Homo sapiens: one gene and its partners. The protein of the gene in region 1 interacts with the protein of each later gene in a pairwise test. Each region holds a gene or a part of one and is shown in the gene's direction. Other genes may lie near its edges. The genes, in order: CLIC6, NISCH, ZNF224, MYO1E, ARG2, OXR1 and ZNF18.

What was found.
Region 2: the proteins of CLIC6 (region 1) and NISCH interact in a two-hybrid assay, tested with the Homo sapiens proteins (one large-scale study listed by BioGRID and IntAct).
Region 3: the proteins of CLIC6 (region 1) and ZNF224 interact in a two-hybrid assay, tested with the Homo sapiens proteins (one large-scale study listed by BioGRID and IntAct).
Region 4: the proteins of CLIC6 (region 1) and MYO1E interact in a two-hybrid assay, tested with the Homo sapiens proteins (one large-scale study listed by BioGRID and IntAct).
Region 5: the proteins of CLIC6 (region 1) and ARG2 interact in a two-hybrid assay, tested with the Homo sapiens proteins (one large-scale study listed by BioGRID and IntAct).
Region 6: the proteins of CLIC6 (region 1) and OXR1 interact in a two-hybrid assay, tested with the Homo sapiens proteins (one large-scale study listed by BioGRID and IntAct).
Region 7: the proteins of CLIC6 (region 1) and ZNF18 interact in a two-hybrid assay, tested with the Homo sapiens proteins (one large-scale study listed by BioGRID and IntAct).

Annotation. Positions count from the first base shown.
Region 1 is NC_000021.9:34,716,359-34,718,723, forward strand, and holds the end of CLIC6 (chloride intracellular channel protein 6), read left to right. Parts: coding exon 1-124; 3' UTR 125-1,865; downstream 1,866-2,365. UniProt on the Homo sapiens protein: In the soluble state, catalyzes glutaredoxin-like thiol disulfide exchange reactions with reduced glutathione as electron donor. Can insert into membranes and form voltage-dependent chloride-selective channels.
Region 2 is NC_000003.12:52,479,604-52,483,103, forward strand, and holds part of NISCH (nischarin), read left to right. Parts: intron 1-145; coding exon 146-259; intron 260-580; coding exon 581-692; coding exon of another isoform or gene 693-916; exon of another isoform or gene 917-1,275; coding exon of another isoform or gene 1,276-1,295; exon of another isoform or gene 1,296-3,154; coding exon of another isoform or gene 3,155-3,164; intron 3,165-3,500. UniProt on the Homo sapiens protein: Acts either as the functional imidazoline-1 receptor (I1R) candidate or as a membrane-associated mediator of the I1R signaling.
Region 3 is NC_000019.10:44,092,862-44,097,160, forward strand, and holds the start of ZNF224 (zinc finger protein 224), read left to right. Parts: upstream 1-1,499; 5' UTR 1,500-1,669; intron 1,670-3,481; 5' UTR 3,482-3,570; intron 3,571-4,299.
Region 4 is NC_000015.10:59,135,403-59,138,871, reverse strand, and holds part of MYO1E (unconventional myosin-Ie), read left to right. Parts: intron 1-504; coding exon 505-674; intron 675-1,415; coding exon 1,416-1,492; 3' UTR 1,493-3,469. UniProt on the Homo sapiens protein: Actin-based motor molecule with ATPase activity. Unconventional myosins serve in intracellular movements. Their highly divergent tails bind to membranous compartments, which are then moved relative to actin filaments.
Region 5 is NC_000014.9:67,636,920-67,640,419, forward strand, and holds part of ARG2 (arginase-2, mitochondrial precursor), read left to right. Parts: intron 1-1,673; exon of another isoform or gene 1,674-2,794; intron 2,795-3,500. UniProt on the Homo sapiens protein: May play a role in the regulation of extra-urea cycle arginine metabolism and also in down-regulation of nitric oxide synthesis. Extrahepatic arginase functions to regulate L-arginine bioavailability to nitric oxid synthase (NOS).
Region 6 is NC_000008.11:106,276,690-106,280,189, forward strand, and holds part of OXR1 (oxidation resistance protein 1), read left to right. Parts: intron 1-3,500. UniProt on the Homo sapiens protein: May be involved in protection from oxidative damage.
Region 7 is NC_000017.11:11,976,939-11,980,475, reverse strand, and holds the end of ZNF18 (zinc finger protein 18), read left to right. Parts: intron 1-1,731; coding exon 1,732-2,519; 3' UTR 2,520-3,037; downstream 3,038-3,537. UniProt on the Homo sapiens protein: May be involved in transcriptional regulation.

The DNA of each region.
Region 1 (2,365 bases):
TGAAATGACTGGCATCTGGAGATACTTGAATAATGCTTATGCTAGAGATGAGTTCACAAATACGTGTCCAGCTGATCAAGAGATTGAACACGCATATTCAGATGTTGCAAAAAGAATGAAATGAAGCTGGGCTGTTTTCTGTCTTATTTCTCAGTTGAGTGAGCAAGGATACGAAAACAGTGTGTTTGAAAACAAATTAGGTTTGGGTTCAATTCCTTCAATTTTTAAAAAACTGGTCTCTGAGAGTTTTTTAAATCATTGAGAGCCTGTTTTTCTTCTCTAAAACATTAGTTTAATTTTCTTCAAAATGAAAATACTGCTTTGTAATTACAAAATGAGACACACCTATCTTGATATTTTAAAGCAATATCAGAGGGTGTAAAGAAGGACATTTTAACAATCGCCTTCAATTTTACTCCACTTAATTACCGAAAACTTACTGGAGAACATGTTCCAAATCTTCAGTATCTTGTTCTCTCTCTCTCTCTCTCTCTCTCTCTCTATCACACACACACACACACACACACACACACACACACACAATTTCATTCATATATGGTATTGCATTATTTTATTTTAAAGCACTGGTGAGGGGACCTCTTGGTGATTCCTGGATGATCATACACAGAGGACTTACACCATACAAAAATATTGGGCACCGCAGTGCCAGAGAAGATGCTTGAGGTTAGATTTTAAGGAGTGGGGAATTGTGAAGCCCACAGATGCGCACGCAATGACCAGCAGGAACCGGAAGCCCTGGGTCACCCCCACTCTGCCTCATTTCTGCCTCCAGGATGCCACTGCCTCTGCTTCCAGGAAAGGCAAGGGGGAGGGTGCTTATCCGTGTCTCTGGTTCCAGCTTCCTGTCTTTGCTCCCTCCCCTCTCTTAGAGACTGTGCCTTCAGCAGGACTCTTAATATCTGCTGCAACTTGGAGAACCTCCCTGCCCTGAAATGTGAACCAAGCACACTTTGGTTCCTTCTCCGGGCGGCTCTCTCTGAGACCCAAGGCTGCAGTCCCTCAGTGCTGGTGGTATCGTGTGGGGATAGCAATACTTCTCTGCCCTTCATTGTCTCATCTAGACATCAAGCAGGGAAAATCCAGGGAGATTAAATTCATGGTGACAAGTCCTGGGCAGTTCTGGTAAACGGTCCAGTTAGGGAGGGAGTAGAAACTATTGACTCAAAAGAGTTTCTGGCTGATCTGTGGCTTTGCCTCCACCATCCCTAACCAACCTCTCATCACAGCTTTGTGTGTGGGCTGAGTGCTGGCCTTAACCCTAGGCGTGGAAGAGAAAATGTGAGGTTGTTTAGATACTCATCAGGACCTCACAGGAGCTGAGACTTATCAGCCAGAATGTGTTCTTCGGACAGTCGTACACATCTTACAGAAAACCCTCCTTGTAGAGTTGGTTGTGGTATGTGTTTGATGCTATAAAGCTCATTTTTAATGTGTACACCTGCTCTAGGGACGATTCGTTTGAAAGAGAGTAAGATGCATTAACAGAAACTATCCTGGGATTAGGTGAAAAATGTCTAGCAAAAGAAACAAAGTCTTTAATAGAGTGGCCTCTTTCGCTCTTCGATTATGACTGCTGCAGTTTTACCCCAGCAGTCAGCTGTCTTTGTCAACCATACGTTTTTGGAGATTGGGTCTAGCACATGTCACCCTTGTCCACGTTGTTTCACATCTGGTTAGGGGGCAGATTTTAAAATGTAGTTTTGTAATGTTACATTTAAGCATGATAAATGATTAGACTACCAGATGTTACTAGTGCTAACTTTGTATTCTTAGACATTAAAATGATTGACATAAACTCTTTGTGCCTTGAAAATGAAACAAATTATAAAAATGTTTAAATGGAACCAATTTCTTTTGGGTTTTATTTTTTATTTTTTATTATTTTTTGCATTCCCCATTCTCCATTTAGGTTTCAAGAAATAAAATGAATGGTATGGGCTTCTTTTAAAATGGTGAGGACAGGCCTGGCATACCGGCATAGTGGCTCATGTCTGTAATCCCAGCACTTTGGGAGGCCGAGACAGGCAGATCACCTGAGGTCAGGAGTTCAAGACCAGCCTGGCCAACCTGGTGAAACCCCATCTCTACTAAAAATACAAAAATTAGCTAGGCATGGTGGTGGGCACCTGTAGTCCTAGCTACTAGGGAGGCTGAGGTGGGAGGATACCTCGAGCCTGGGAGGTGGAGGTTGCAGTGACCTGAGATCACACCACTGCACTCTAGCCTGGGCAACAGAGTGAGACCCTGTCTCAAAATGAAATGAAATGAAATGAAATGAAATGAAATGAAATGAAATGAAATGAAAAACAAAATAAAATAAAATAAAATAAAATAAAATAAAATA
Region 2 (3,500 bases), on another chromosome or scaffold:
AGCAGGTGCTCACGCCTCCTCCTCAGCAGAGCCCTACCATCCTCCTGCCATGCTCACCAGTCCCCATGCTGATAGCCATCACCAGTCCCCATGCTGATAGCCATCACCAGTCCCCATGCTGATAGCCACTTTCTGGATGCTCTAGGTCTGTCTGGATGACACAGTGACCACAGAGAAGGAGCTGGACACTGTGGAAGTGCTGAAAGCAATTCAGAAAGCCAAGGAGGTCAAGTCCAAACTGAGCAACCCAGAGAAGAAGGTGGGTTTGTGTGGCAGGTGGGAGGGCAGTGGTGCAGAGCCAGCCGGGATAGGAGCCAGTTTGGGGGGCTTGGGCCATGGGACTGCTCAGGGCTGCCGAGTCCCAGCTGCGCCCCTCCCTGGCTGCATGACCTCGGGCAAGTCGCGGCCTCTCTGTTCTCTGTGGGGTGGGGACAGTGGTAGTTCCTGCTCTAAGGATATGATGAGACCATCTTTACCACCCAGTTGGTGGGAACCGTTGCGCTCCCTCCTCACACCCCTGGCCTTGGGGAGCTCTGTGCTTCCTCTTCTCTCCCGGGCTGACTCAAGCACTCGTCCTCAGGGTGGTGAAGACTCCCGGCTCTCAGCTGCCCCCTGCATCAGACCCAGCAGCTCCCCTCCCACTGTGGCTCCCGCATCTGCCTCCCTGCCCCAGCCCATCCTCTCTAACCAAGGTAATCGTGTATGTATCTTGCTTCTAGTGGAGCCACACAGCCCTGCCTGGGCCCCCTGGCTGGGCTGGGGTTGGGGGAGAGGTGCCAGCACCTGCTTCCAACAGGGTCAGACACAGGGAGGGCAGTGCCTTCTGCAGGCTGGTCCTCGCGGGGGGACACATGGCAGGGGTGCCTGGCCTGATGCCAGCTGTTGCTTGCTTGGTGAGGACTCCCAATTGCTCTGATGCCCACATCCAGCTCCTCTAGGAGACCGCAGGGTGTCTGACAGGCCCTGAGGCTGCCCTCTGAACAGGCTCGGGGCTGTTGGCTCATGGGACCCATTCCCTCACCGGCAGCACAAGCAGGTTGGCTCCTGGTTACAGGAAGCCGGGCTTGTGACTTTACTGTCTGGAGCCCGAATCCCTGTGCAGGGAAAAGCTTGCTTTTATCACTGCCTCATCTCTGTGGGGTGACCCAGCCCCAGAACACCATGTTTGTGGGGCCAAGATGGGCCATCTCTGTCCCTGTGGACCCATGGAAGACCAGGCCCATTCGTCTGCCCACTATCTTAGCGTTTTCAAAGGGCTTTCACCTCTGAACCCAGGCATCCTCGGAGATGAGTGAGTGAAGCAGGTCTCATGAGCGTGTCTGCTGGCCCGGCCCCCACGGAAGAGGGGAGGGTGTGCCGTCCCGAGTGGAGCCGAGGCTCGGGACACGCAGGAAAGGACGCCGCCTGCCCGGGCTCCTGGAGACGCAGAACTTGGTGTGAGGTCTTGGGAAAACAGTTCAACCCGATGTTTTAAGAGCCAGAAAAACATTCCCACCCCTTGACCTGGTAACCCCACTGGTGGGGATTTTCTCTTAGAGGGATAAGATACCGGGAAGGGGAGGTGAAATGCTCACCACTGCCAAAACACGGGCTGCAACTGCAACATCGGAGGATGAGAGGGAGAGTCGGCTGTGGTGCAGAATGCTCAGCAGCCCTCCCAGCAGGGACAGGAAGACTGGGCAGGAAGAGGGGAGAAGCATTCAAGTTAAGGCAAAAGGCCCAACGCAGAGCAGCACACTGAGGTCACACCTGTGAGATGTGGAAGAGAATTCCTGAGCGTGGAGCGATGGGGTTAGGTGCCAGGATGATTGCCCATTTTGCTTCTGTCAGACTCTTGACTAAGGATTTCTGGTTGCATTTTATTACATAAAAGCCAGGGAGGTTATATCACGGTGAGAAAGCTTCCCTGACGCTGCCTCCTGTAGCGCAGCCAAGCGAGCCTGTGGAGGTACCATATGACTGTAGGCCTCTGGGGACAGGGAGCTGCATCTGCTTCTCAAGGCCAGGGACACAGCCATTTCTGCCAGCATCTGTTGATCAGTGAGTGAGTGAGTGGGCAGGTAGAGCAGGAGCCAGTGAAGAGCAGGCCCTGGATGGGTGGGGATGCACCATGTCCCCAGGCTGCAGCTGCAGGCAGCCCCCCACATTGTCGGAGAAGCCTCTGCACCAGCTCAGCCCCCTCCTCACTCCCCTTGTGCCCTGGGGACACTCTGCAGAGGGGCACTCTGCAGTCTGTCCCCGCCATCGCTGGACTTCTGGACATGGCCTCCAGATTTGCACCTCTTAAATAAAACTGCAGTGGATGTCTTTGTGTGCACCTCTCTTTCCTTTTGGTGAGAAACAGCAAAGATCGGACCCCTAAGGACTCTCCTGATGTCTCCGCTCTATCCGCTGAGTGCCCTTTCTGACCACTTGTTTGTACAGGCCACGGTCCAGGACGGGAGCAGATAGACTGTCCCTGTCCCTGTCCACATTTCCTTGGTCCAAACAGGGCTTGTGGGAGGTAGTGGCAAAAGGTGTTGGTCTTTTTCTCACTGATTTGGAGGCCTCCCCGTGTGTTTTTTCAGCCGCGTGTTCCTGGGTCTTGCCTGGATGGACAGGGTTTTTTAGCGCGTGGGAGCAGCTTTGCTGACCCATGCCTGTTGCTTCCAGCCTGATTCCCGAGAAGGGAGCCTGCTTGCGAAGGAACTGGCACTCGGGCCTGCCTGAAGGGGGCGCTGTCCAGACAACACCCAGCCTCCCGTCGTGGCAGGCGCTGTCGGAGCCATGGATGATTGTGACCAATAGGGGTGGTCGCCAGAGTTGATTGTCCAGCCAGGCCCAGGGGCTGAGAGGAGGCTGTGTGGAGAGGTGGTTAGGAGCCAGGGCTCGGTCAGCTGAGTTCGCATGCCAGCTTCCTAGCTGTGGGACCTCAAGCAACTTGTAGCCCCTCTGAAGCTGTTTTCTCAACTGTGAAGTGGACGCACCCTACTTCATTGATTCTAAGAGGCACGCATTTCCACCTTGTGACTTCTCTGAAACTGAGGTGCGTCTTTCAGTCAGTGGCGTCTCATAGTCGCTGTCAGCCAGCTGGTATTCGAGATGGAGTCGTGGAAAACCCGTGGACACCTTCCGCTAGGACCAAGATGGCGCCACCTGCCGCATCTTAGATTTGATGAAATGTGGTAAATAACGAGAGGCATGCATGAGCGAATGCTGGGGAGGCGCTTGGCACTACCCAGAGCTCCACAGAGGTGGTCGATGAGGGCTGCCCTTTCCCACATCCTTAGTAGGGGGTTCAAGATGACCCAGACTGTGCCCCTGGGGAGCTTGGAGCCATGCGGGAGGATGAGCCATGTGCTGGAGGAGAACAGGGTAGGATGGTGTGGGGCTTTTGTAGACTGTCTAGAGCAGAGAAGGTCTGCAGTGGAGGTGGTGTCTGAGGTGAATCTCGAAGGTGAATAGGAGTTGAACGTTAGCAGGCAGAGGGTGGATTGCAGGAGAGCAGCGGCCTGGGCAGG
Region 3 (4,299 bases), on another chromosome or scaffold:
AGCTGGGTGTGGTGGCGCATGGCTGTAATGCCAGCTACTTGGGAGGCTGAGGCAGAAGAATCGTTTTAACCCAGGAGGCGGGGGTTGCAGTGAGCTGAGATCGTGCCATTGCACTCCAGCCTGGGCATCAAGAGGGAAACCCCACCTCAAAACAAAACAAGACAAAGCAAACAAAAAAAACAAATCGTAGTAGAAACATAAAATATTATGAAGTACTGGTACATGCTGTGATGTGGATGAACTTTAAAAGCAGTATGCTGGCAGGGCGCGGTGGCTCACGCCTGTAATCCCAGCACTTTGGGAGGCCGAGGCGGGAGGATCACGAGGTCAAGAGATCGAGACCATCCTGGCTAACACGGTGAAACCCCGTCTCTACTAAAAATACAGAAAAATTAGCCAGGCGTGGTGGCACGCGCCTGTAGTCCCAGCTACTCGGGAGGCTGAGACAGGAGAATCGCTTGAACCCGGGAGGCGGAGGTTGCAGTGAGCTAAGATCGTGCCACTGCACTCCAGCCTGGCACTTTTTTTGAGATTCCGTCTCAAAAAAAAAAAAAAGAAGCAGGATGCTAAGTGAAAGGTGTCAGAAACAAAAGGTTCCATAATGTATAATTCCATTTATATGAAATGTCCACAATAGGTAATTCAATAGGACAGAGATTAGTGTTAGACAGTGACTGCTTAGTGGGTATGGGGTTTTTGGGGTGATGAAAATGTTTCCTAACTTTTTATTTGTACTACATATATCCTAAAATGGTGAATTTCACGTTTTGTGCATTACACCTCAATAGAGATGTTTTAAATAATAAAATACATTAAAATGTTTTGCATAGATAAAACAATAAAAAAAAACGTTTTTGTTGAGAAAATATTTGCGAGATAAAATGTTAATATCATGAATATAAGAACAGTGCTTGAAAAGTGAGGGATAAAACCAAAAACTCAATAAGAAAGTGGGCAAAACATCTGGACAATTTACAAAAAATGTAATAATGACACCTGAAAATATGCAAGAATATGCCATCTTTACAAGAGTTATAAATTAAAACTACATGCCATTTCTTACCACTGGCAAAACTTATTTGAAGAGTGTATCATCTCGCTTGTTCCCTTTCCAGTAACACTCCTGTCCTCACTAGAGGGGTTTAGACTTCAGGAATTCCTTTCTATACGGTATTTTCTCTTAGGCACCCAGGGAGAGGGAAGGACGACTCTCAGGGTAGAAGTCCACATTTCCCAACAGGCGCTCGGGGGTACGAGATTCGTTCCCCGTGGGAAGAGTGGTCAAGGGCTTCCCAGTAGTCGTCAACACTTCCCTTTGAGTGTAATGCTGCAGGAGTACAGTCCAGACCCTCAGTGGAATCGCGGTCGGTTTAGCTCCGGCAGTTGGGTCCCAGGGAATTCTGGGAAGTGTAGTCCAGACGCTCAGTGGAGTCGCGGTCAGTTTGGCTCCGGCTGGCGGGTCCCGGGGAATTCTGGGAAGTGGAGTCCAAACATTCGGTGGAGTCGCGGACACTTCCGCTCGGGGACTGAGGTTGCTGCAGTTTTTCCGCGATAGTTTGGGGCAGTTCCGCGCGTTGCAGGCCCTTCTGAATTTCCTGGACCTACGCATTGGATCCTCAAAGAACTGGTGATCGAATTAGGGGAAAAGGGGCCTCGTCGGAGAGTAGAGGTTTGGAGGGGCAAGGGCCGCTGTTTGCGTTCTCGTCCGTGGCACCTTCTTGGGCTTGGGTCTGTCCTCGCTTCCCGGGGGCATTGGTACTTGGTTGGGTCGCGTCTCACCTGGTTTCAGGGTTTCCGGGGCTCTGAGCTCGCCCACTCCGCCCCCTGCACCCCACGCGCGTGGCCACTTCTTCTCGATATAACGTTGGGGTGTTAATCTCCTTGGGTTTCCCGTTACTGTTCTTTAAAATGGGGACTTTAGGGCCATCCTAATGGAATCGTTTTGGGAACTGGAAGAGGTAACACAAATGAGAGCCTTAAAGCAGTCCCTGTCACTTGGTGACTGGTGGTCTCTTGTTAATTTCCCACGAAGGACCGGGTGGGGTCAGAGCTCCAGCTGCAGGGGCCTCGGCCCTTCTCCCTGATCCCTGCAGGACGCTGGATGATCCCGGAAGCCTTCTGACCTCTTTTTAGGAGAGCGAGGGTTGCGTCCACTTTCATGAAGGGAAAGGAGCATTTAACTTTTATGGGGGACGGCGACGCGGTCAAGGTGTTTCACAGCTTTCTCGTTCCCCAACCCGACCTTTCCAGAAGAGCTGCAGGGAGGGACTTCTTGGCTTCTGAGGGCAAAGCTCTACGTGAGTGGTCCTTGGCTCTTTGACCGAGATGCTCACCCCAACCGAGAGTGTATAGGTTGTGTCCTCGGGCATGGGGGTCGATAATAATTAAGTCTTAATTAGTAACTTCATTCTAAGGGCTTTATACAAATAAATTTACGCCACACCGTGGCTCTGTGGAGAAGTATTGCTTTTTTCTATTTTAAAAACGAAAGTGAGACACAGAGCGCATAGGCACCCGACTAGTGAGAGGTGGAGCTGGGGTTGGAACCTAAGCAGTCTGGGTCAGAGCCTGATTTGATCTTCTCTTGGGATACGTTGTCACTGAGGCAGAGGAACTAGTTGGACTTAGGTGGGGAAAGCAAGACTTAGGGGCTTGAAATTTTCTGAGTTTCTAAAAATGTTGTCAACTATTTTGTTTCAATCATTACAAATATTTTGTATTCTTATAGAACCATGTCATTGTACAGCATTCTATTTTTCTTTATTAAGAACAAAATGGGCCTGGCGCGGTGGCTTACGCCTGTAATCCCAGCACTTTGGGAGGTCCAGGCGGGCGGATCACGAGGTCAGGAGTTCGAGACCAGCCTGGCCAACATGGTGAAACCGCATCTCTACTAAAAAATAATTACAAAAATTAGCTGGGCGTGGTGGTGGGCGCCTGTAATCCCATCTACTCGGGAGGGTGAGGCAGGAGAATCGTTTGAATCTGGGAGGCGGAGGTTGCAGTGAGCGGAGATCTGCCATTGCACTCCAGTCTGGGCGACAGTGCGAGACTCCGTCTCAAAAAAAAAAAAAAAAGAACAAAATGTTTTTATTACCTACGAATCCATGAAGTAAAGGTAGCAACTGTTAAGCTCGTAATGTGTTTCTTTCTTTTTGTATATTTATAGGTTTATTTATGAACATTTACAAATTTTTATAATTTTTTTCTTAATATTTCCCCCTTATGTGTTTAACTATGGAAATTTCCAAATGCTGACAGACTAAACTAGTGAATTATCATGTTATATCATACTCATTAATCTCATTATTGTTATTATTTTTCCTATGACTGTTTCCTAAAATTATAAAACTTTTTATTTTCATGTCATTTGAAACCTATAGAAAAGTTGCAAAAGTAGCCTAAGAAATTCTTATTTACTCTTTACCCACGTTTGCCAAGTGTTTACATTTTTCCTGTTTGTTTTGTTGATGACCATCAGCTGAATACCACTAGAAACATACCTGTAACCAGAGACAGCTGATTATAGCTTTCTGCAGCAAGGAAGCCCACGTACCAGGGGCTGTCTTGGTAAGTAGAATTTAGGAAGACCTAGTATATGGTTTCACATAACATATTAGATAATTTCAGATTGTATACCAGATAATGTTATTTATTAAATATTAGATATCTATCCAAAGACTGCTAATAGTAGTTTATTGTATTATCTATTATACAGTGCTAGATAACATATTACCTAACTTCATGTTATGTACTCTGCAGTTCTATATTTAAATTTGTTCTATTTTTCACTTAAGGTTCTTACAAGTGTCCCCTACCCATCTGCCACCACCACCTGTGTTCACAGTCTAATTTTATGCATTGCCTTTAATTGTCACATTTCCATAATCTTTAATCTTGAGGATTCTACACCCTTTGTCTTTCTATGCTTGATATTTTTGAAGAGTATAGGCAAGTTATTTTGGAGAAAGGCATTCATTTGGAGTTGTGTCTGATGTAATTCATGTGCGGGTTCACATTATGCATTGTTGGTAGGGATACCACAGAAGTGGTGAATTGCGGGTTCAGATTATGCATTGTTGGTAGGGATACCACAGAAGTGCTGAAATGTCCTTTTCATTGCAACATAACAGGGTCCAAGTGATGTCAGTTTGTCTCTTCATTGGTGATCTCAACCTTGTCCACTTGGCCGAGACGCTGTCTTTCAGATTTCTCCACTATAAAGTTACTTAAAAAAAATTGAAAAGAATAAAGTTTCTTAGGAATAGATAACATTATTAGTGGGCATTCAGCTGTAAA
Region 4 (3,469 bases), on another chromosome or scaffold:
CAAATATTGGCTAGGGGTATTTACATGTGTGGCAAACTGTAGAGATGAGCCAGAGAATGGTTAATACAAACTGTAAGGTGGTGGTAATCTGGGGGGAATGCAGTGAAGGAGAAATGCCTACAGGCTTCTGTGGCACCTGCAAAAGTTCCATTTCGAAACTTGAGGAAGGAGGGACAGATACCTGAATGTTCCTGATTTAAATGTATGGGTATACTTTTGACACTTTTTTATGGATATGTGTCTCCCACATTTCCTTCTATGCTGGGGACACAGTGACAACAGCAGCTAAGGTTTTTAAGAGCTATGTGCATTTGCAACAACCTTGTCAGAAAAGTTACTTTTATTCCTCAAGTTTAAAGACTGCACCCTGGGCCACATGTCTTCTAAGGATGGAGCTGGATTTGAACTTGAACAGGCCAGTGCCGGCCGCCATGCTCCAAACCACCGTTCGGTGCTGCTGCCCCCTGTTGGGGCCCAGTCTCATCTGCTCCACTCTCTCCACAGGGTCAGGAGACAAACAACCAGTCGGCCTCCCCCAGCAGGGGGCAGACCCAAGCCCCAGCCCAAGCCCAAGCCTCAGGTGCCACAGTGCAAGGCTTTGTATGCCTATGACGCTCAGGACACAGACGAACTCAGCTTTAATGCCAATGACATTATTGATATTATCAAAGAAGGTAAGTGTGTGGCTGGTTGGCTGGGACAGCCTCCCAAAGAGCATGCAGTCACATTGCTGTAAGATCTAGTGTGAAAATGAAAAGAATTTATGGGCTCCTCAAACTGCAATTTGTAGAGGCAGGTCAGGCCTCAGGCTCAGTCTGATCAAGACACCAGCTTTTTTAATGCTTCTTTCAGCTCTGCCCCCTTATTTATATTCCCTCCCTTGTCAAGCTGTTTTTCTTCATGGTAGCAAAACGGCAGCAGCAATTCCAGGCCAACATATCAAACCATGTCTGAAATGTGCATCATCTCTGAAACTTCTGTTCTTAGTCATTGGACAAAAGTCCTGACTTTTATTCTGATCAGACCAAATTAGCCATGTGTCCATCCCTGAACCAACTTCAGTAGCAAGACAAAGGCTGTACCCTGAGAGGATGAGACCTGGTAGGGGCTGTCCCCAGAAACGGGGAGGTCTGTCCCACCCACACTTCCTGGCTTCTTCATAATGAAAGTGGATGGAGTGGAAGCCAGGAAGACAACCTTGAATATCCATTATTAAAGCAGTCCATGGGCTTGGCTGAGTGCTTTATTAATTTGGTAGATATCTTACTTTTTTCAACAAACTTTTTGATTTAAAGAACAAAGGGAAAACAACATGGATGGAGCCAAATCACTTGAGCCCATGGGAGCGGAGTGTGTGTGGCTGGGGCAGAACAGACTTTCTCATCTTCACTTCCACCACCTCTCTCTCCCTGCAGATCCTTCTGGCTGGTGGACGGGTCGACTACGAGGCAAGCAGGGCCTGTTCCCCAACAACTATGTGACCAAGATCTGAGGTGCCCGTGACTCTGACACATGGGGCAGAGGAGCTCCAGGCACAGACCAGGGGAGGGGATATTTAGGGGCTCCCCTTACAATCCACAATGAGCAATTGCTTCTCCAAGGCCTGGAGCTATTCTGGTACCTTCCCCATGGAGGACACTGAAAAGGCTGGGTTGGGGACAGGGAGTATCACTCCATAAGTGATCCTAAAAGGTAGCCTCTTCATAGGAACCCAGGAGGACAAAACCACCATGCATTAAGATTTATTTATTGTATTTAAACCTGGTGAGAGGACAAGTGAGGTCTGCTCAGACCTTGTAGGCTTCTATCAAAACAGCACCCTGCTTGCTCACCAGGCCTAGAGAATGGCTGTAGGTGGCCGCTGACAAGTGCCTTTAGTTGAAGAGCACATTTCTTTCATCTCTCTTGTCCATACCTGATAGACACATTCCTCTCTGCCACCTTCCTTCAGGGAGGACCCGCCCTCTGCAGACTGGGCTTAGCGTGAGCAGGCACTTCCCATGTACGTGCCAAGGGTAAGCTGGCCTGCTGAGCCCAGGGCGACAGAGGGGCACTGGTTTACACTTTGCCGGGACCATCAGGGCCGCCAAGCAGGTCAGGGGCTGGGGGCTGGGGGCTGGGCTGCTGGCTTTGCTTTCTCTGGGTCTTCAATTAGAATGTGGCTGGCCCATATTGGTTTGTGTTTAAATGCTGTACTTACTACAAGAAGGATCTTTTTTCAAGCTGTACATTTATAAAAACAGATCATATACTGTATATATAAAAATCTTGAGATGGTAGAAACATGTATGAATGTACTAAGTAGTATTCCACTGTACTCATTCATAAGGTAGGTTTTCTTACAAAACTCACACCAGGTACTTAAAGATGTGCTCTGCTTTTTTCCAACTACGGAGTGTCACTGCTTTCTAGGTCAGTCCCTGCAGACTCTTCTCAACTCTTTCCCTATAGGAAACTTACTCCGCGTCCTGCCCCCACCTCCTAAATAAATAAAGGAATCGGCGAACACCTTCTTCTTTTATGACATTTGTTATGGGTTGAATTGTGTGCCTCCAAAGAAGATGTTGGAGTCCCAGCCACCAGTACCTCACAATATGACCTTATTTGGAAATAGAGTCTTTATGGAGCAAACAAACAAAACTAATTAAAATGAAGTCATTAGAGTGGGTCTTAATCCAATATAATGGTGTCCTGATGAAAAGGGGAAATTTGGACACAGAGACCAACATGCCAGAGGAAAGACCATGTGAAAAGGCAGGGAGAAGACAGCCATTCACAAGCCCTGGACAGAGGCCTGGAACAGATTCTCCCTCACACCCTCACAAGGAACCAGCCCTGCCCACCTTGGTCTTGGACTTCCAACCTCCAGAACTGTGAGGCAATACATTTCGCTGTTTAAGCCACTCGGTTTGTGGTAGTTTGTTACGGCAGCCCTAACAAACTAAAACAATGTTTTCTTGCCATAATAGTGAAAAGCTGGAATCAGTGTAATGCCCATCAATAATGGAATGGTTGTAAGTAGAGACTGCCATTTCTCTACCTTTCCTCCTCTGGGTGCCATAGCCATTCTTAAGCTACTGGTAACTTAGAGTTTGAGCAGCATACACCTTTGAGGCTTTCAGGATCCTCAAGTCCATGGGAAAAAATTATCAGGGCTTACGTATAAGGGAAAAAAATTGATCTAGATTTGAAACGAAGATACATTTAATTCTGCTGTGTTTTACTTCAAGAACAGGGAGCAAACTCCATTCTGTAACAGTAACGAATAATGTTAAAAGGCTACTTCAGTTCCATGTTGCGACCAGAGAGGAAAGTAGAGCCATGATGCGGTGAGTTGAGGAAAGGTAATCCTGTTGACACTAGTGGTCTCTAAAGTACTTTCACATTCATGGACTCCCCGCAGTGGGAGGAAGATACCACCAGAACTGGGACAGAGGAGCATGCTGGAGTCCCCACAGCCACCAGCACT
Region 5 (3,500 bases), on another chromosome or scaffold:
TGGACTTACAGATGAATTGACCTGATGCACAGTTAGAGAAAGGGAAAGTTCCCACAGGCATAACAGCCAGACACATATTCCTTACACATTACAATGTCTGCATTTTTCATCATTACCCTAAGCTTCTTGAAAAATTAGTGAGACCGTTTCTTATGACCTATGAACCAGAAGAACTTGCCACAGCACTCTGATAAAGAAATAGCTTTAAGGCTGGGCATGGTGGCTCACACCTGTAATCCTAGCGCTTTGGGAGGCTGAAGTGGGAGGATCACTTGAGGTCAGGAGTTCGAGACCAGCCTGACCAACATGGCGAAACCTCGTCTCTACTAAAACTACAAAAATTAGCTGGGCATGGTGGTGCATGCCTGTAATCCCAGCTACTTGGGGAGGCTGAGGCAGCAGAGCCCCTTGAACCAGGGAGGTGGAGGTTGCAGTGAGCCGAGATCATGCCATTGCACTCCAGCCTGAGCGACAGAGCAAGACTCTGTCTCAAAAAAAAAAAAAAAAAAAAAAAGAACTTTAATATTACTCAGTTCATCCTGCTGTTACAAAAAGTTAACTTCCCATCAGCCTCCTCACTCCTCTTAAAAAAAAACTGTAGCAGATGGGTTACAATTCATGTTTTCTACAACAACATACTAGAACCAGGGTTCAGATAATCCTAGAACTAGGGTTCTGTTCTACCAGTCCTTTGGGTATTGGTAGTACCCAATACTATTGGCACAGTGGGCATTAGAGGAGAAAGCTCTTAAGAGGTGACATCAGGCTGGCATCATGTATTTGTTGATTCAGTTATGTAATTAACTAGAATAGTTTAACATAAATTTGTAATCCTAGAGCAACTTTCATATTTTGTTCTTAAAGGTTATGGCAGTAGAATAAAAAAGTACTCACGGTGGCATACATTGCTAGCTGTCCACCAAAATCCATTCGCATTCTGTTCTGGACATAAGCTAGACCTGCATTTGCTGGCCAGTGCCAAAAGTGAGCAGGAGTAATGTGCCACTTTCAGGCCAGAGTCTTGAAAAGAGGAGGTGTGCTTTCTCAATGCTTTCTTCCTCTCCCGCTGCCTTGAACCTGGGGAGACCTAGACTTAGCCACACAGATGGCAAAGTCCTAGGCATGAGAGCCACAAGCCAGGTCTCTGAATTACTGCATAAAGGAAAGCCTCCTGCTGACCTGGAATATCTACCCTGGATGCTAAACAAACAAGAAATAAACTTGTTTGAGCCATATTTTGGGCTCAAACATATTTTGCTATGACAGTTAATTTACTCTAATAACCTTACTTAAAATAATATTATGTATTATGCCTATAACTAGCCCAGGCATGGTGGCTCACATCTGTAATCCTAGCACTTTAGAAGGCCATGATGGGAGCATTACTTGAGCCCAGGAGTTGGAGACCAGCCTGGAAAACACAGTGAGACCCTGTCTCTACAAATAATCCAAAAAAAAAAGAAAAAAAATGATTAAAGTCTGAAAGGATACAGTAGTAAAACCCGGGCAGTAGGTTTGGGACCTCTGATATACACGTTATCCAATTTTACAGAGAATTTCAAAACAAAACAGTGCAAGTACAAACTATTTGTCATAGGAGTTCTTCTTTGACGCCCCTGATCCTCAGTGAACTTCCCCTGACTCCTTTAGGACTCATTGTCCCAAGTCCTTACCTGGCACTGAAACTGTGCAAATTATAGAGTTGAGTTCGTTCTTCCTGAATATTCTAGGGGGAAAAAAGAAAAAACAGAGTTGGGAGCAGGAAGGTAGGCCACTCAGGCAGGGCCTCTCAAGGTATAAATCCCTTTAGAGGAGGCTGGCCCTTAGCTTTGTGGATGCAGAAACACAAGGTTGCTGAGTGCATAGCTCATCAGGCTTTCAGACCCAGACTCATGCTAACCATGCTGGATCAACCAAAATGCCCGTGCATAATTATGTTAAGCAGTAGTCCTTCCAGTGTCCACTGTCTAGAAGCTTTTGCCCATATTAAGGCATGTGGGAAACCAACTGAATAGCCAGAATGCTGTTTGGTGAGATGGCATCGGAGTAAATGGAGTTGGACAATGTGGACAGAATCCACTACCCAGGTTGGGAATTAATCTGATGAACCCCCGACAGAAGTTAGTAACCCTTCTAGCACCTGTAATGAGAGCAGAGTGGTGGCCTGAATTAGCGACTGAAATCCTTCTATGAAATTCAGTCTCTCTTCCTGGGAACGTTACTGTAAGATTGCCAAATTCTCTTTAGGTTCCTTTTTAGGCTTTGTGCAGCTTTTTTCTAATACAAGTGAGTACTGTTTTCTGTCACGTTTATCTGAGTCTACATCCTGGTTTGCATGATTGGACTTGGGTAGTCCCAAAGTTCTGTGACTTATCCACTGGATTGAGCACTTTAATTTCCCTGTATTTCTTCTTGGTCCTATGAGGATTGAATGAAAGTGCTTGGCAAATAGTTCTGAAACGTTAGTTAATATTATTTAACTCCAGTTTGGGGCCTTTTATATGACTATTCCTTAGAGTGCAATTACCAAAATATAAATTTATAAAGATTATAAATCTTTTATAATTGTACACCTAATATTATAAAACACCAGGCATACCCTGGTGTCTTACATCTAGTAAGAACCTAATGGTTGATGTGATTTAAGGAGAGTGCTGAGATAAACATGGAGGTGAAAGTAGAAACATCCAGGAATTGTCCATTCAAGATCTGTACAGTACACTGGGTGCAGTGGCTCATGCCTGTAATCCCAGCACTTTGGGAGGCCGAGGCAGGTGGATCACTTGCGGTCAGGAGTTCGAGACCAGCCTAGCCAACATGGCGAAACCCTGTCTCTACTAAAAATACAAAAACAAATTCACCAGACGTGGTGGCGCACACCTGTAATCCCAGCTACTTGGGAGGCTGAGGTAGGAGAATTGCTTGAATCCAGGAAGTGGAGGTTGCAGTGAGCCGAGATTGTGCCACTGCACTCCAGCCTGCATGATAGCGCAAGACCCTGTCTCAAAAAAAAAAAAAAAAAAAAAAAAAGTCTGTGCAGTCCAGGATTGTGTTGTCAACAGACAGAGGAAAGACTTGATATTGACTTGAAGGTTAATTAAAGCTTTCATTCTCTTAAGTCTAAAGTATCCTCTCCATATTTTGAGATTTGGTGAAGTCCATAATGACTTTACTCAAACCTTTTTGTCTTTTTTTAAAAAAATAAAAGATTTTTATAGATGTTTTATTTGGTTCACATTTTTATCTTGGTTCACAATGTCTTTGGCCTGTTGTCATATTTTTCTCCTCCTACCCCTGCTCTGCTACCTTTTTATCTGGTTGTCTGGATCTTCTCCAGGTTGGGGCCTTTTATATGACTATTTCTTAAAGTGTAATGACCAAAAGATAAATACAGAATTCTTGCTGTAGGTGTATCTCACCTTTAAGAATAGGTCTGGGTGACACAAGGGCTGGGGAGGAAAAAAAGAATAGGACAAAGTTTTCTGTCTTGTTTCCAATAT
Region 6 (3,500 bases), on another chromosome or scaffold:
ATGCTCAAGAACCGATATTTAGCTCAAGAGCTTCTCCTTTCAGCTGTTAGATTCTGTTAGAGGCAAAAAAAAAAAAAAAAAAAGGTAACTGATGGGTCTCTAATTATGTTCAATTCAGGTATTCACCTAAATTGTCAAAAAGATTAAACGCCTTTTTATTTTTTCCTAATTGGGATGAAAATAAGTAGAGCTTTAGGTAAAGATTTCTAAAACCAAACAAAACCATATGCATAATGTCTTTCAACTAGGATGTATTTTTTGATGATCAGAAAATTGAAGATTGGCCCTTGCTGATAATTCTGTTATTAAGTTTATAGATGTTTTTATACCAGTTTAGTGTTGTTGCCATTATGGTTTATTGAAGCATTTCAGATTCAATAAAAATCTGAAAACCTGTTGTATGTTGTTCATTGTAAAATAAATAATGTATGTATTCTTATTTGTAATTTATGGTGACTGATATGCATATGATCAATTGGAATAATGAAAGAGTTAAAATTGGAAACCAGAACAGATGGAAACTTTGAAAGAACATTCTCTTTAGCACCACCCAAGTTTGTATTCAAATCTCTGTTCCTCAGTTATTAGCTACAAAAAAATTGGGCAAATTACTTTCTACCTTACTACTTTTTAAGAATCATATCCACCGGATTATAGGTTATGATTCCTGTGATGATTCGGTGACATAAGCAAGTAAAGATGCTAGCATGATGTCTGGCACCCTCTTTGTCCTTGTACTCTGCTAATTCCACCACACTTCAGCTGTGCCCTTGCAAGTGATCATTTATGCTTGAATTAGTTCCAACTGTTTTACTCTCAAGAATCATAAAGCCTGATCTCAAGTTTCTTGAGGAAAAAAAAGAGAGACATGATTCATGACTGTGTAAGTGGAGCCGGGAGCTCTATGTGACTCTAAGCAGGACCTGATTCAGGGCTCACACCCATGTGACCAGTTGCACTGCAGTTTCCATTGCAATTTCTTAGCTCCTCTTCCTTAATCTTGGCTATGTCCTTGACAGGCTTACTCTTCAGGGTTCTAAGATGGCTGCCAGAAGCTTTCAGAGCTTCATGTTCCCAGGTTCAAACCTAGTGAAGAGGACAGTCTCTTCCTGTACCTTTTACAGATGAAAGAGGAAGCTGCTGTTCCTAGAAATTCCAGCAAATATCCCTGGTCAGGTCAAGAGCCCTCCACCAGTCATAGTGGCTGGAAAGGTGGAATATACTGGTTGAGGAAGTGTGTTTTCCCATAGAAAATTGAGGGATTGCTGTTTGTATGCTGATTGTATGCTAGCACAATAAGAAGCCACCACAGCATTTATGTTACTGTTTGGCCCCAAAGAAAAATGTTAGAGCCATGGTTTTATTTCATCTGGGTCATGGTTAAAGTCTAGAGGATTCTTTCTGTACCATTACTGAATATGTGTTTCCAATGATTGATCTGAATTTTCAAGATTAATGACAGCAGTGCCCATTAGCTCTCTTCCTTCAATCTACATCATTAGACTGGCTGGGTACACACTAGAATTTATGTTTTGCTACAAACAACTGTTCAAGGAACAAATTAATATATTTTCTTACATTAGATACTAGGTAGTAGAATCACTGTTTTCTGATAAAAGTCAGGAGCTGTCATCATGTAAATTGTTAATCTAACATCCCGTGATTTATTCCTTTGTTCCTGGCTTACCTTACTAACCTCTGGTCCTTCATCTACATACCAAATTACACTTTACAGGAAGGCTACTAAGATTTATGTACAAACAAGTCTTAGTATCTACAAACATGGGCAACTAAAAAAAAAATCCAGAAAGGTTAACTTGTTAAATGTATATTAAAAAAAAAAATTCTACATCATCCATTAGGGCTGTTGAATGCAGTCTCTTAAATGCAGTCATTTTCTAAGATAAAATGTGATCTTACTTTTTTAATTAACATATTAATGGACTAAGGATGCTTTCTCTCATTTATTTTTCACCCTTTGCGTAGATCACAGTGACTGGATGTCATACATCACATATTAAGCAGAAGAATGTTAACAGCCATGATAAATGGCTTTGAGTGAAAAATATTTTCTTCTGTTTTCATTCATCCAATGGTTTAGTCACATAAATAAATGTAAGTGCCTTATTTTAAAATGTCTTAAAATGGGAAAATAAAATCACATATCTTTGCATTTTTAAAGTTAGTAGCTTTCAGGCTACTATAAAATGTAGTCTGCTTGTGGTAAGTATGTCAGTGTAGCAATTGGTTTTTCCATATGTAGTTTCCAACATGGGAGGTGGGGGAGATACTTTAGCACAATGCAGTTCAAAAATTAAAAACCACAGAAATGAACCAGACTTTCATTTTCTGTTATATCTATTTAGGTTCTTAAATTCTTAAGAAGACTAAAGAAGTTGAAAGGTATTCTTTCACACGACTAAAGTATCATTGAAGTGAGATTTTTACCTCTTTGCCAGCATGTTTTTAAATTTCCAATCAGCAGTTACATTGGTGGGTGTATAACAGAGAAAGCATAAAGTCATGTGAATGTTTCAGATACAGTTTTTAATTATCTGAAATATGAAATGAACAACTAAGAAGAAAAAATTACCATTCTGGCATGGTAAAAATATTCTGTAATTTTAAGAAATACCTAGAGAGAAATCATTTTAACATAGCCTTTAAGGCATAGCTGTTGATTATATACTGTATTAAGAGTTTTGTGTTTGAGTATCATGCACACATTATGTTTGTTCCTAAATATTATGGGTAAGGTTTTCTTTGGTATTGCAGTTTTTAAATTATTTTTGCTGTCTAATGGGACTGAAAATAAAAGGTTTTTAGTAGCTTAATTAGAAACTATGCACTTTTAAAAAGTTTTCCATCAACTGCCTCTTCTGACTGAAGCACAGAGATTTGCAAAAACAGTAATAGATACATTATAGATAACTACATAGAAAAGCTCTGAACTAATCATTTAGATTACTTTGTGGAAGGGAATGGAGTAAGGCTGAAATTTCACTGGAACTTACTAATAGTAGTAAGTCCAAATAAGGTAAATCTTAAAACAAAACAGAACAAAACTCAAAGTTATGATGTTGTAACTTATCAGAGTTCCTTCACTGACTTCAATAGAAGTGTATTCTATTCAGATTAAGCAGAAAGGAATCCATTGGATGGTTATGGAGGAGTTCATGGAATTGAAGGAAATTCTGAAGAGCAGGACCTTGGACAGGATAATATCCCAGTGCTGGAATGGATCAGCTCTAGCTATTTTCCATCATTGTGTCACTGTCCTCAAGACTCAGCATTTAGAAAGGACAGAGAGAGAGAGAGAGAGACAGAGTTTGGGGGAAGAATAGGCCATTTTGACCAATAGTCCTAAAGCATAATCTATAATCTGTTACTACTGGAAGAGGGGAATAAATGATAATGTGCCTGCTGGGCAGGCACATTAGACTGATGTCCATTCAGGATGCAGAAACTTGTTTTAGTGATCATGAATTACTAGAAAGAGA
Region 7 (3,537 bases), on another chromosome or scaffold:
GCACTCCAGCCTGGGTGACAGAGCAAAACTCCATCTCAAAAAAAAAGTTTTCATGACCATGACAGATAAATGATTATTTTTGTTGATATAGAAAGAGTTAAAGAAAGTTGATAAGAAAAATGTGCTTTCCCAGTAAAATATGGGCAGCAGTCTTCGAGTATGAAAAATAGCTCATAAATGTGATAAAGATTCATCCTTTCATAACTTAAGAATTAAAATTTAAAACAATGAAAAACCACTTTTCATCCATCTAAATGGCATAAGTTTAAAAATATTCAATATTTAAGTATTGAATACCCACTTCCCCCTCTGCCCAATTTCACATATGAGAGGATGGCAGAGTTGTTCTGGAAGTTGGGTTGCCAGTAGGTGTCAAGAGCCTTAATATTTATGCCCGTTGACACAGTAATTCTACTTTGAGAAATTCCTTTGAGATATTGATGAGAAATGTGGGCAAAAACTTATGAAGAAAACTGCTGATCACAGCATTATTTGTAGTCGCAAAAACACAATAAGCAAATTAGATTTCCATGGTAGGGGAACAAATTATATGTTTATTATGACATCTTCTTGATGGGCCATTACTCAGCTCTTTAAAATGATATTTATAAAGGCTTTTTTAAAAACACGAGAAAGTACCTTTGCCATTTGAGAGGAATATATTCTAAGGCTTTTATTTTATTTTATTTTATTTTTAGATTCAGGGACATTCTAAGGCTTTTTGACTTAACAAGTTCAGATCTAGCTCTCTAGAAGATGTCTAGATCCCTGGCAGACAATTGAAAAGACACTAATATGTGAAAGAGAAAGGTAAATGGCATCTTTAGATCTATATAGTTAAAATAATTTATAAAAGTTGAAAATCCTACCACCAAAATAAAAATTTTCTATTTGCATCATTAAGTACTATAACCAAAAACCCAAGTTACGATGAGAAAAACAAACTTCCAGTTGCTAGTGTGATTTAATAAAGGGCATGTAAATACTAGATTCAAGCACAGATCAAGGGATTCACTTTTATAGTAAAGCCCCGCTGCATTGCAGCTGTGGTAAAATGACACGTGCATTTCACAGATTTTGGGCGTCTTATGAATGGGAGAGGGAGACTCTATATTACATTGATTAATGCCACCATTCACAATTAAATGCTCCATAGCTAGATATAGAACTATATGTACAATATGACACAAATTATGTCAGAAAATAGCATATACCTGCATACATATAGGTTAAATTAAAAAGACTGAAAGGAAATGTATGCTCATAGTTGTTATCTCTGGGTAGTAAGATTGAGGCGGATTTGGTTTTCTTCTGTATATATTTCTCTCTCTTCAGTTTTTTTTTTTAGTTACCATATTTATCTTTTATATATAATCAGATAAAAATCACTTTAAAAGCAGTAGTTGCCTATAATATACTTGTTTTTTTCCTGGTCCTTAAGAAATACATGTGGCTTTATTTACGGAGTGATCACTTTATGAGTACTCCTGTGTTGTTTAAAAATCCTCAGCTCCAGAGCTGAACCATTTAGCCTTGAACCCAGGACAGGGGAAGTGAGTTTGAACATTTGGGCCATATGGTAGTTTTCTTTCTCACTTACTAATGCCCTAAAAAAAAAAAAAAAAAAAAAAAAAAGAAAATGAATGTTTTATGATGACCCTCTCTTTGACATATGAGTTAGAAAACAGGGCATAGCACTTGAACCATTTCAAATCTTCTTTCTTCTTTTAGGAGATAGACAAGAGAATGACAAGGAGAACCTAAATTTGGAGAATCACAGGGACCAGGAGCTCCTGCATGCTTCCTGTCAAGCTTCAGGAGAGGTTCCTTCTCAGGCTTCCTTGAGGGGCTTCTTCACTGAGGATGAGCCAGGATGCTTTGGAGAAGGAGAGAATCTCCCTGAGGCTCTGCAAAACATTCAGGATGAGGGAACAGGGGAACAGCTGTCTCCTCAAGAAAGGATTTCTGAGAAACAACTAGGTCAGCATTTGCCTAATCCTCATTCAGGAGAAATGTCCACCATGTGGCTTGAGGAGAAGAGAGAGACCTCCCAGAAGGGGCAGCCAAGAGCCCCCATGGCCCAGAAGCTCCCCACCTGCAGGGAGTGTGGGAAGACCTTTTATAGGAATTCTCAGCTTATTTTTCACCAAAGAACTCACACCGGAGAGACATACTTTCAGTGCACCATCTGCAAAAAAGCCTTTCTGCGGAGTTCAGACTTTGTGAAGCATCAGAGAACTCACACGGGAGAGAAGCCCTGTAAATGTGATTACTGTGGGAAAGGCTTTAGTGACTTCTCAGGATTGCGCCACCACGAGAAAATCCACACAGGAGAGAAACCCTATAAATGTCCTATCTGTGAGAAAAGTTTCATTCAGAGATCAAACTTTAATAGACATCAGAGGGTTCACACTGGAGAGAAACCTTATAAATGTTCGCACTGTGGGAAAAGTTTCAGCTGGAGCTCGAGCCTTGACAAACATCAAAGATCCCACTTAGGAAAGAAGCCCTTTCAATAGCCAGTAACCAAACTCTCTTTCCCCATTTCTATCTCCCAGCCCAGTCACAAAAATACTCAGCTCCATCAAGAGGAATTGTGTCTAAGAGGATACCCCTGTTAATCTCCTTTTTTCTTGGATTGGAGAGGAGAGAATCTGGACATGGCTTTGGACTTGGAGGATATCTTGGATTGGATTGCACAATGGCTTAAATTCTTGATTCTGCCTCAGGAGAAAGAATAGTCTTCATGTTTCCACTCATCCTTCCTTTGGACCCATCGGGGAAAAAGTCTAAATTGGAGATCCAGTTTTAGAAGTGCTTTCTGGGAAGCATTTAATGGGATTAGCTGTAGTCACTGCTTATGGGAAGAACCTCAGATCAGCCCCTTAAAATGAGTTCTAGAGCAGGTCTTCTGTTCCAGAAGGGGAGAAGCATAGAGGGCCTGTGAGCTCACGTGTGTTCTTTGTCATAGGGGTGAAAAACTAACTTCAAGTGTCCCTTGTTTGAAATAAACTTAGCAGAGTCACTTTCTATCTTATTTGTTTGTTCACTGTGTGTTTGACTGTATTTCAAAGCACATTATTTCATAGAAGACCCTAGGCAGTTGAACTCCAAAGTCAGCCCCTATAAACCTCAAGTTCATAATGTAGCAGAACAGTAATAGGAAAGTCCTAGGCTAATGTTCAGACGATCGGAGCTTGGCCAGTGCTGGCAACACCTTTATCTCAGGTAAGTTTGTTTTTGGTGTCCTCTTTCTGAGCCACCCTTCCACTTGATCTCTTGCCTCAAGCTGCCCCTTTCTCCTGGCATCCCACATGGGCTGTCATTTTTGCCAAAGTGTGCTCTATGCTTTAAAATTACCTCTGTTATAGTCTAATTTTGTCTGTGAGTGTTTGTTAGGAAGAAATTGATAGCATTGATCTAGTTTATAATACTCTCTAGTGGTTTATTAACACATGTATCTAAACTGTACAATTGTACTTGTCTCCACAAGTTAGATGCCTCAAAGTGTCCTGCCTGTATAGTGAGTTTCATGCG